Regions from separate parts of the Homo sapiens genome. Here region 1 is linked to region 2. Evidence: fine-mapped QTL for protein levels in blood plasma. Region 2 holds a variant in brackets. A gene starts in the other region. All regions are shown on their reverse strands.

The links. PIP is the chance, under the fine-mapping model, that this variant and not a neighbour inherited with it causes the effect. The UK Biobank Pharma Proteomics Project read protein levels with antibody pairs (Olink). The fine-mapping took linkage between variants from a reference panel, not from the people measured, so its PIPs are less certain.
Region 1: RSPO1 starts here. The variant in region 2 is fine-mapped to the plasma level of the RSPO1 protein (UK Biobank, PIP above 0.99).

The regions. Positions count from the first base shown.
Region 1 is chr1:37,632,024-37,637,396 of GRCh38, reverse strand. RSPO1 (R-spondin 1) reads left to right here and starts at 2,505. Exons shown (of 7, transcript NM_001242908.2): 1 at 2,505-2,831; 2 at 5,044-5,110. RefSeq lists enhancers at 2,104-2,630, 2,631-3,158, 3,687-4,214.
Region 2 is chr20:45,352,607-45,357,979 of GRCh38, reverse strand. No RefSeq gene overlaps it. Among named protein-coding and RNA genes, the nearest start is that of SDC4, 6.9 kb to the right of the region's middle. The variant C/T (reference allele first, on the strand shown) is at 3,228.

The DNA of each region.
Region 1 (5,373 bases), not on the chromosome of region 2:
TTTCAGGGGAGCCTATAAATTGACAGTAACAAAGTCAGCTTTTTCTAGAGTAACAGTAATGATCACAGATGCCAGTAGTTTCCAATCCAAAAGCCCTTCTTCCGTGCGGACAGAGTTCTGCTTTTGTCTGTGAACATCCTCCCAGTTCCTTAGGAACTCACTGCAGTGGAAGAGACCATCATTGGCCAATGATGGGTGGTGTACAGGTCTACACAAGGTTTGGAGGCTGACTTTCGAGGTGGTCAGGCTAAACTTCATACAGGCCTTTTGAAGGATGACACAAAAAGGATTAGAGAAAAAGACATTTCTTTTTTTGAGACGGAGTCTTGCTCTGTTGCCCAGGCTAGAGTGCAGTGGCGTGATCTCGGCTCGCTGCAAGCTCTGCCTCCCGGGTTCATGCCATTCTCCTGCCTCAGCCTCCCCGATAGCTGGGACTACAGGCACCCGCCACCACACCCAGCTAATTTTTTGCAATTTTAGTAGAGACGGGGTTTCACCGTGTTAGCCAGGATGGTCTCGATCTCCTGACCTCGTGATCCGACTGCCTCAGCCTCCCAAAGTGCTGGGATTACAGGCGTGAGCCACTGCGCCTGGCCGAGAAAAAGACATTTCTAAGCAGAATGAACAGCATATGCAAATTTAGAGCAACACAGCTTTCCCAGGGAAACAACTCATTTGGCATAACCTGAACTGGGCTGGCCACTTGCAGGCTGTGTGTCTCTGAGCAATTGACTTGGCGTCTCTGAGGATCAGAATTTACATTTATGGGAAAAAAGGAAAAAAGAAAGGAACTACAATAGTTGCGAAATTAGGTAACAGAATATATGTGCAAAACACAGTGCTTGGCATACATTAGGTGCACAAGAAACATTCTTTCTTATTCACCCATTATTGTCACATGGTTCTAATTCGTTATCTTCTGTCACCCAGGTGGCTTTCTTCCCTTTCTCACTCATTCCTGAGCCTAGTAACGAGGCCCCCCAACTTCCACAGACTTTTCCTCAGGCAGGAAACCCGAGCCCACTGCCTGGCCTAGGACAGCTTCTAGGGCTGTGTGGTTTGTGTTATTTCTTCTCTTTTCTCTCTCTCTCCCTCTTTTTTTTCCTAAATGCAACAAAATAAAACCAAACAAAAAGCCCAATGCCTGGCGTGGCTTGTCAGAGAGTTATGCAAGTGTGTAAAAAAATAAAATAAAATAAACATTGAGTTTTCGGCATTTGGGGCTGTTTGATTAGACACAGAGCATAGCCAAGGGCCGGTTAGACGCAGGGAAGGCTCAGGGCAGAGGTGAGAGAGGAGGGACTTGAGTGGGGGTTGGAGGTTGGAGGGGGCCCCTGGACCAACTCGGAAATGACTGTTTGCCTCCTGCAAACTTGGCAATGCTCTGGCTGAATGAACCCAGACACTGGGCATTTCGGACCCAACTGCTCCACTTTCTCTGGCTATCCACCATCCCTGTTCCCTGGCCATTGGGACACTCTAGGGGTCATTACATCCATCCTCCTGTCATTGTAAACGACCCTGTGCCCTTAACTCAATAGTCAGGGCTCCCCCCTTCTCTCCTAAGAGGGAGATTCCACAGCCTGTCTTGATTACTCACCCCCCCTATACACACACACAATCAGTACATCTTTTCTGCTCTAGCTTAACTCCCACTAACTACAGTTTTAGCCCATTTTCCTTTCCCAATCTGAAGTGAAGCTGGAGAACAGCTGTTTGTCACTCTAAGAAGTGAGTCTCCTTCCCTCCCTTCTTCGGGCTTGACTTCAACATCATCTGGGTCACTGCAGGTGTCTGTAGCCGTTCAAGACTCATTCCACAAACATGTATGGGGTTCCCACCATTAACCAGAAGTTTGTAGCCTTCATTTCATTGAACCCTCAGAACAGATGAAGCCTTGCGATTCAGAGAGGTTCAGTAACCTAGGCATGACCACACAGCTGGTAAGTGATAGAGCCAGACATGAATCTAAGTGTTATTGTATGATCTCCCTCACTCTCACCTACCAGCTGCCTCTGGAGGTGTCCTCACCTCGGTGCCCAGGATCTGATAGCCTTGGTATTTCTTCTGAACTGGGAAGATGCACAGAAGATTTGACCCTGAAGGGGGAGAGGGTGTGGTCAAGACCACCAGGCTCTGTGGAGCCTGTTCCTTGTCACTTTCCAGGTTCCTGATGGGGAAACTGGGGTTTTCATGAGGGTCTCCGGCCGCGTTCTGACGCCAAGATGAGCGGAGTTGTTGCGGGTTCTCTGGCTGCGTGGAATCCCCGGGGCGCGGGGAGGGGCAGGGGACAAAAGCAGAAGGTCTGCCCCAGGGTCCTGGGGACTTGTCCCTCCGCCAGCCCCGCGCTCGGAGCGCAGAGCGCCAGCTTCGGGCAAGGACGTGTGGACTCCCGGGCCGGCGCTCCAGTCCATTTTTTCTTGCGGATCCCTGGAAGGGGGGCCGGCTCGCGGGGGGGACTGCGAAGGGGGGGATTCCCTCCCTGGTGCTCGCAGAGGACTGGCCCCTCTCCGGGCTGGGAGCTCCGGCCGAGCGGAGGCGCGACGGAGAGCACCAGCGCAGGGCAGAGAGCCCGGAGCGACCGGCCAGAGTAGGGCATCCGCTCGGGTGCTGCGGAGAACGAGGGCAGCTCCGAGCCGCCCCGGAGGACCGATGCGCCGGGTGGGGCGCTGGCCCCGAGGGCGTGAGCCGTCCGCAGATTGAGCAACTTGGGAACGGGCGGGCGGAGCGCAGGCGAGCCGGGCGCCCAGGACAGTCCCGCAGCGGGCGGGTGAGCGGGCCGCGCCCTCGCCCCTCCCGGGCCTGCCCCCGTCGCGACTGGCAGCACGAAGGTGAGTCCCCTCGTAGCTGCCCCATCCTTCTCCCCAGCGCCCCCTTCCCCGGGAGCTGGGGCGCGGCGGGCCCTCCCGTCGGGGCTGGTTCTAGCTGGGTGCGTGGGGGGAGACAGAAAGGAAGGGGAGTCTGATCGCTCTCCGGTCGGCGATCAGGACAGGGCACCTCCTGCACCCTTCCTGCAAGTCTGCCGCCCCCGTCGGCCCTCAATCCAGCAGGCAGCCTCTTCCCCTCGAACTCCCCTCCATCCCGCAGCCCCGGGTGATCATCCTCACTCGCAGTCCTGAATTCCCCAAGTCCACCAGCCCTGTTTATACCCCGCCTCCAATCCAGAAGTTCTTGATCCTGGGGCTCATTGGCTCGGATTCCCCCAAGTCCCACGGTCTCTGGTGACCCCCACCCCAGTCCGCAGCCTGGGCCTGGGTTCGACGTGGCAGGCGGCATGCGCTGCGGCCCCCGGTGCGCAGCGAAGTGGCGCGGCTCCCTGGCCCTCGGGGTCTGGCGCTCAGGAACCGATGGTATCGCTTAGTTGGGGAGAGGTGGGGGCTATGTTCGCCCGGGACTCCCTGGAGGGCCGGGACAGACTTGGAGTGAGTGTGCTTGGGGGCAGGAGTTTTCTTGTGAAACTGGCCTCTCAGACGTGGACAGCTCTCTTGGCTCTTGAGGGCCAGCCAGGGGAACCTCAGGTCCGCGTCTCCCTCGGCACCTGTTGGGGCCTCTGCGGGATGGTGGGGGAGGGAAGAAGAATGTGCGCGCTTGCGGGGGTGATGGAGGGGTGAAGAAGCCATCCTCCGCTGCCCTTGCTTTTGGAGGGGGGGCACGGCCCCAGCACCTGGCTTGGCTCCGACAGACAGGCTAATCCCGACAGGTCGGACAGGCACATACTTTGTCCCGCCCCCCGCCCGCAATTCTTCTGCCCCCGCCTGCCAGCCTGCTGGGCGGCCAAAACTCTCCAGCCTGTAGCCCGGCCCGGGGAGGGCTAATGCGAAATTATCTAGATAGTTTACATTTTTGGGTCTGTATCGGGCCCCTGATGGAGTACCACTTTATTCTGACGGTATTGCAGGCAAGAAGGTGAAAGTGATTCCAGCCCCCTCCCGGGGCTGAGTTTCTGCCCTCAGCTCCACCTCCAGCTGTGTCCCCCTCCCCGACCTGTATACTCCCCTCCGAGGCCCTTGTGGCCTCTCGCTTTGGTCTCCCTTCTCAGCTCTGCCTCTGCCACCAGCCCCGTCCCCACTTTGCAGGTCCACTCCCCAAGCTGGGTTGTGCCCCACACTCAGCAGCTCCCAGCGGGTTGCCCCGCCCTCCCCACACCCAGTCCTGGGTAGCAAACCTGAGGGCAGGTCCCTAACTGGGTCTGTAACCCCTGGGACACTTAACCATTCAGGGCCAGGTCTCTTCCCCTGTAAAATGGAAATAATTCTACCTTCCTCCTTCCATTGTGAGGAGTAAACGAAGACCTGGCACATGGCAGGTGGAGGGAGGCATCTAACAAGTGTGAATCCCTCACCCCCACAGTGGCAGAGAGAAATGCCCTTTCTTACCCCCACCAATAACCTGAGGCACTGCCAGCAGTCCCCATTCTATCTGTGTAGAGTGAGCCTCAAAAACATAAACTGCCAGTGCCATATAGCCCATGGCTCAAAGGAAATCAGACAGAGGACTCTAAAAGAAATGAAGCAGCCTGCTTAAAAGGGAGTCATCAGCTCATATCTCCTCTCTCAGCCCTAGCCCATGCTGTCCATGTCTGCAAGAGTGCATGCCTGTGTGTGCGCATATGGGGTCAGGGACTAGATGCAGGAATGTGGAGCCACTGAGGCAGGGACCTGTGGCCCTCTGAGGCTTGGTGCTGCAGGGTTCCTAGTCCGAGACCTGTCCAGCATTTCAAATCAGATTTCATGTAAGATCCTGGATTTTCCACTCCTCTTTTAGAAAATCAGAAGATCTTTCAACAATCAGTCAGAGCTGAACGGCATATGCTCCCTTTAGATGGGGCATTTACCCTCCAGTTTACCCCCTCCACATCCAGCTTCAATCATATATGTCATTTGTACCCCCTGGTATAGAGGAACTCTTAGCCCCTTTACAGGGTTGATTCTATATGTACATTTTCAAAAAGTGCTTGCAACTCTTCCCATCCCAGAGGTGGGGGAGGCCAGTGTCACTTGCTTCAGTGAAATTTACATCTGGATCCTCCTTACGATTTTCCAGCTGAGATTGTGGTTTCCTGGTGATTCAGGTGGGAGTGGGCCAGAAGATCACCGCTGGCAAGGACTGGGTGAGTGTGGCAGGGGTCAGCTGAAAACTAGGACCTGGGAGGATTGAGAAGGAATTTAGAGGGAGAGGAGAGGGAGGAAAAAGAAGGGAGCTAACATTTGCCGAGCACTCACCCTCAATTGCCAGGCACCATGACAGGTTGGCACAAGGAATGCAGAGATGCATAGGGGACATTTTGTGCCCCAAAAAACCCCAGGGATATTGATCACGCAGTGAGTCCAAAGTCTTTCAGATCCAGGGTTAACACCAAGTTTGTCTAATGCA
Region 2 (5,373 bases):
ACAAAAAGCGCACTGAAGGCCAGGCAAGGTGGTTCATGCCTGTAATTCCAACACTTTGGGAGGCTGAGGTGGGTGGATCCACCTGCAATCAGGAGTTGGCGGCCAGCCTGGCCAACATGGAGAAACCCTGTCTGTACAAAAAATACAAAAATTAGCCAGGAGTGGTGGTGCATGCCTGTAATCCCAGCTACTTGGGAGGCTGAGGCAGGAGAATTGCTTGAACCTGCGAGGCAGAGGTTGCAGTGAGCTGAGATTGTACCACTGCACTCCAGCCTGGGTGACAGAGTGAGACTCTGTCTCAAAAAAAAAAAAAGGCACTGGACATTACAGTGACATACAGCTTTCATCTACCTGACCTCATCTTATTGTTGCAACAGCCCCAGGGATGTAGGTATAAACATTGTCCACATGTTACAGGTAAGGAAATTGAGGCTTAGAGAAGGAAGTGACTCACACTCAGTACACATTGAGGTGTGGCATGTCTTGTCAGCTGGAATAATCAAAAGTTAAGAAACATCTGGGGTGTCTGTCTTTCCACTCTAACTTTCCACCCCAACCTCCCTGTTCTTTCCTTCACACCAGAGGGAGTCAGGAAACTGGTTTTCTGTGTTCTGTGTCTAATGATCAGGGGTTTTCTGCAAACCCTCTATCTATGCAGGGTGGATGATGCCAGGCATGACAGTGGGTGGAAGGACCTCTGAGTACAGCCATCCCTCAGCATCCATGGGTGGTTGGTTCCAGGACTCCTGGCAGATATGAAAACCCAGAGAAGCTCAAATCCTTTATATAAAATGGTATAGTATTTGCATATAGTCTATGCAATCTTCCCACATTCTTTAAGTCATCTCTAAACATCTAATACAATGTAAATAGTTGTGAAACTATATTTTAATTTTTATTTGTATTATTTTCATTGTTGTACTGTTGTTTTATTTTATTTTATTTTTAAGACGGAGTTTCACTCTTGTTGCTCAGTCTAGAGTGTAACGGTGTGATCTTGGCTCACTGCAACCTCCGCCTCCTGGGTTCAAGTGATTCTCCTACCTCAGCCTCCTGACTAGCTAGGATTTACAGGCATGTGCCACCATGCCCGGCTAATTTTGTATTTTTAGTAGAGACGGGGTTTCACCATGTTGGTCAGGCTGGTTTCGAACTCCTGACCTCAGGTGATCTGCCCACCTCAGCCTCCTAAAGTGTTGGGATTACAGGTGTAAGCCACTGTGCCCGGCCTTTGTTGTTATTTTAGAGACAGGTCCTTGCTCTGTCACCCAGGCTGGAGTGCAGTGGCGCTATCATATCTCACTGCAGGCTCACACTCCGGGGCTGAAGCAATCTTCCCACCTCAACCTCCTGAGTAGCTGGGACTACAGGTGCATACCATCAGGCCTGGCTATTTTTATTTTATTTTATGTAGAAAAGGAATCTCACTATGTTGCCCAGGCTGGTCTCAAACTTCTGGGCTCACGTGATCCTCATGCCATGGCCTCCCAGAGGGCTGGGGTTACAGGCATGAGACACTGTGCCCAGCCTCACACCTTCAAGTTTTCTTACCTTGATTCTTGACCCCATCCATCATGTACTAAACTTTCTGTCCCTACCTAGAAATTATTCTTTATTCTGACCTTAAAGGACTCAGGGCCTTGTTTTAAGATGAAAAGTTGTTTTTTTACACTTCCTTTTTATCATTATTTATTCATTCAATCATCTACTTGATAAATATTCATTGAGCATTTATTATGTGCCAGAAACTGATCCAGGTGGTATGGATATAAATGAATAAAGTGAATAAAGAGAAAATACTCTAATCTCATAGAGGAGAGAGATGATAAACAAGTCAATCAACAATATAAAATCTAGCGTCAAGGAATGTCAGTATACTCAGAACACCAACAGTGTGGGATTCTGTTATAACATCAGAAAATGGATGAATACAATATTTATCTCTGCTCCTTTTAGGACAGGACACTTGGGAATCAGGAACAGGAATCAGGGCTGTAAGTTCAGTGAGACAGCATGGTGATGCAGACAGAATCAAAGAAACTTGAGTTTGAATCTTGTATCAGTCAGCTTTTGCTACTTAACAAACACCCCACAAATCTCAGGGGCAACAGAAATGGATTTCTCAATTGTAGATTTGCAGGTGGGTTAGGGCAGCTTTGTTACAGTTACGGTTTTGTTGTCATTTCTCCTTGCTCCGCCTGTTTTCTCATCTGTAAAATAGAGATAAAACTACTTACTTCACAGCATCCAAGTGAAGATGATGCTCAACACTCCCTTCTGATTAAACATACACTCTGCTCAGGGTATGTGAGAAGCTAAATGTTCAACCTCTAGGCCAAATAGTAATCCAAAAAGTGGTCTGGGCTGCAGGCGCTTACTTAAGGAATAAGGAAGGCCATTGGCCAAGCCAATGAGTCTTGTGGTCCCCTCCCAAAATTTAGACTAGAAGAGAGAACCAGTAAGTCAGTAAAAGAGAGAGAGGCACACATCCAGGAAAAAGAAGAGACACTCTTAAAGAAAGAATAAGCAGGCTTAAAGAGCAAGAGATGAGTCAGCCAGTCTGTGGCATCATCTCAGTCCTTGATGTTTCCCTTTCAGTTTTAACCTTTAGCCCTCCCGGTCCTCCTAATAACTCCTAAGCCTTTTCTTAAGGAGTCCTGAGTGAGGCATGTTTCCTCGCAATTGCAAGAACTGAGCTAAGACAGAGAAGATGCATATAAAGTTGCCAGCCCACAGCTTGGCATATAGTAGATCCTCAGTCTACTGTATAGCTGGCAGCTATTGTCCGCTAATCAGGGAGCTGCTTAAGAACACGGACAGGTCTTGTTCACCAGGATTTATCAAAAAGCTTCTCACATACAAGATATTCATCAGATGTTTTTTGGATAAATGACCAAGTGAGTGAATTGCTACATCTGAGCCTCTAAGGGAAAATGTCCAAATGGCATTCATCCAGTTATCCATGCGACAAGTATTTACTGAATGTAAACCTCTGCCAGACCTTGGACAAGGTGCAAGGGATGCAGTTGTGAACACAACAATGTTCTTGCCCTCATGAAACTTACATGTGGCAGAGAAAACAGAAAATAAACAAGTAAAAGAATAAGTGCGTGATGGCAGGTAAGGGAAATGTTACGACAAAAAAATAAAGCAAAGCAAGTGGAAAGAGTAATTGGAGGTGTTATTTTTAGAATTCTTCAAAATGCCTGTGGTGGATGCTGATTCAC[C/T]GTGTGGGCCTCGGTTTGCCTATCTTATAATGCGGGTACTGTTGGACTGAATGATTTGAGAGGACCCTTCTGGGCCTAGTGTTCTTAGTTTCTGTGGTTATGCAAGGCAGTGGCTGGACATTCCACAGCCCCTGGAAACTCTAAGCTGTCATTATCTGTAGCTGGAGAGAGATTTACATAAACTGAGGAAGACCAGAAAGGGTTGGCACCATCCTGGGCGAGAGCCCTATGGCCCAATCCTTTTTCTGTTCTGAAAATAGTAATGTGTTACCTGTTATTAACCATGTGTGAGGAGCTGCTGGGGAGGGGAGTAAGTCAAGACTCTTATGGGGAGGCCCCCTTGATTATAAAAATAGATAACACTTTGATGCTCCGTATTGTGCTAAGCACTGTAGTCTTAACATTTTTATGATGTTAAGAACTATAATGACCCTCAAATTACATGGGGGGACACATGAGAAAACTGAGGCACAGAGAGAAAAAGTGTCTTGCTCCATACCACCAAGATTGCAATCTAGGTCTCTTTAACTTTGAAGACTGTGCTCTTCACCTAAAACTAACATGAGTGAGAAAGGGATGCCTGCCCAAAGAGTGGGACAGATAGAGTCCTAGAAACCTCAAGGCAGGAAGAAATGAGAATTAAAAGAAGAGGATGGAGGATTCCAGGAGAAGGTAGCATTTAAGGTGTCTCTGGATGTACCAGGTGTGCACCTAGCCTTGGTTAACTCCGGCCTAGGAAGTCTGAGAAAAGGGGGAGGGACACCACCTCTGCTATAGGCTGGGTCTGAGCTCATTTTTTAGCTCCATGGGAGGGGGCTGCCTGTTGATGTCCTAGATCATTTCCTTTTGCTTGAAAGGAAGCTAGGGGGAGGATGTAAAGTGTTTGACCAATGCCATCTCTCAGACTCACTCAATCTCAGGTTAGAATATACAGAAAGAGTGCTGGACCCAACATAGGTGAGTATATGTTATGTGTTCACCACTTCACCTTATTCCATTCTCCTAATTAGTTCAAGAGGGAATTATCTCCATTGTAGGGAGGAGCAAAGGGACTCACAAACTTTCCTCCAGTTGGCAAGTCCTGGAAACAGGATTTTAATGAAGAACTTCTGGCTGTAAACACTGTGGGTTTTGTTTGGTTGTTTGGGTTTTTGTACCTCAGCCCCATGCAGGAAATTAGGAACTCCTATTCAGTATTACAAACCTTTGACTACTGCATTTTGTTTTTTGGAGGCCAAAGAAGAACCCAATAAAACTTCTCAAAGAATCTCAGGTTTTGGACAAATTATTTTTAACTCTTTGGGGGTCAGGATCACCCAAAAGGAGGATCCCCCAAACATCCTCTTTTTGTGGATATAAAGAAAGAATCTGAAGTTTCTTGCCCCAAAATAATGTATGCAGAGACACATAACCTAGAGGAGTACTGACCATGCATGTGTCCTCTGCCCCCAGTCATGGAGCCCAGGTTAAAGACCCATACATCCACAAATAATTATATTCAAACATGTTGCATCCCTTTAGAGATTCTCAGAACTTGGGGAAGGGGAAATTATTTCCTTAATTCCAGGAGGTTAAGATAGTTTTATAGAAGAACTTCCATTAACTCTCTAAACGAGCTGTTTTCAGTTTTTGTTTTTGTTTTTTTGCTAGTGTACTCTGTAAATGATTATTTTAAGACTAGGTACTCCTTGACATAATTTTTAGTTGATAGCTTAACATTTTTCATCAAAAGTTTAAATAGTTGCAAAGGTTGTAATTTCTGGCATATTGTAAATTTATACACGTAAAAGTAAAACAATTACATCACTCTTTTAAATGTATCCAGTTAAATTAAATGCCCTAGCAATTCGATACCTACAATCATCCATTTAAAAAATACATGAACAAGCTCTTTTCTAAGAGTCAGACATTTTGCATCATTTCTTTTTCTATTTGAAGTCAAATTTCTACTCCATGTTCCACCACAAAATTTTATCATAATGTGTTTTTTTTTAATGCGTCAGAGGCTTACTGATGACTCTTTTAAAAAGTCCTGCAATAATTTAAACAGCTTCATTAAGGTACAACTGGCATAAAATAAGCTATACATATTTAAAGTATACAATTGACATAAATATATGCTTGCTGTGTTAGGCTGTTTGCGTTA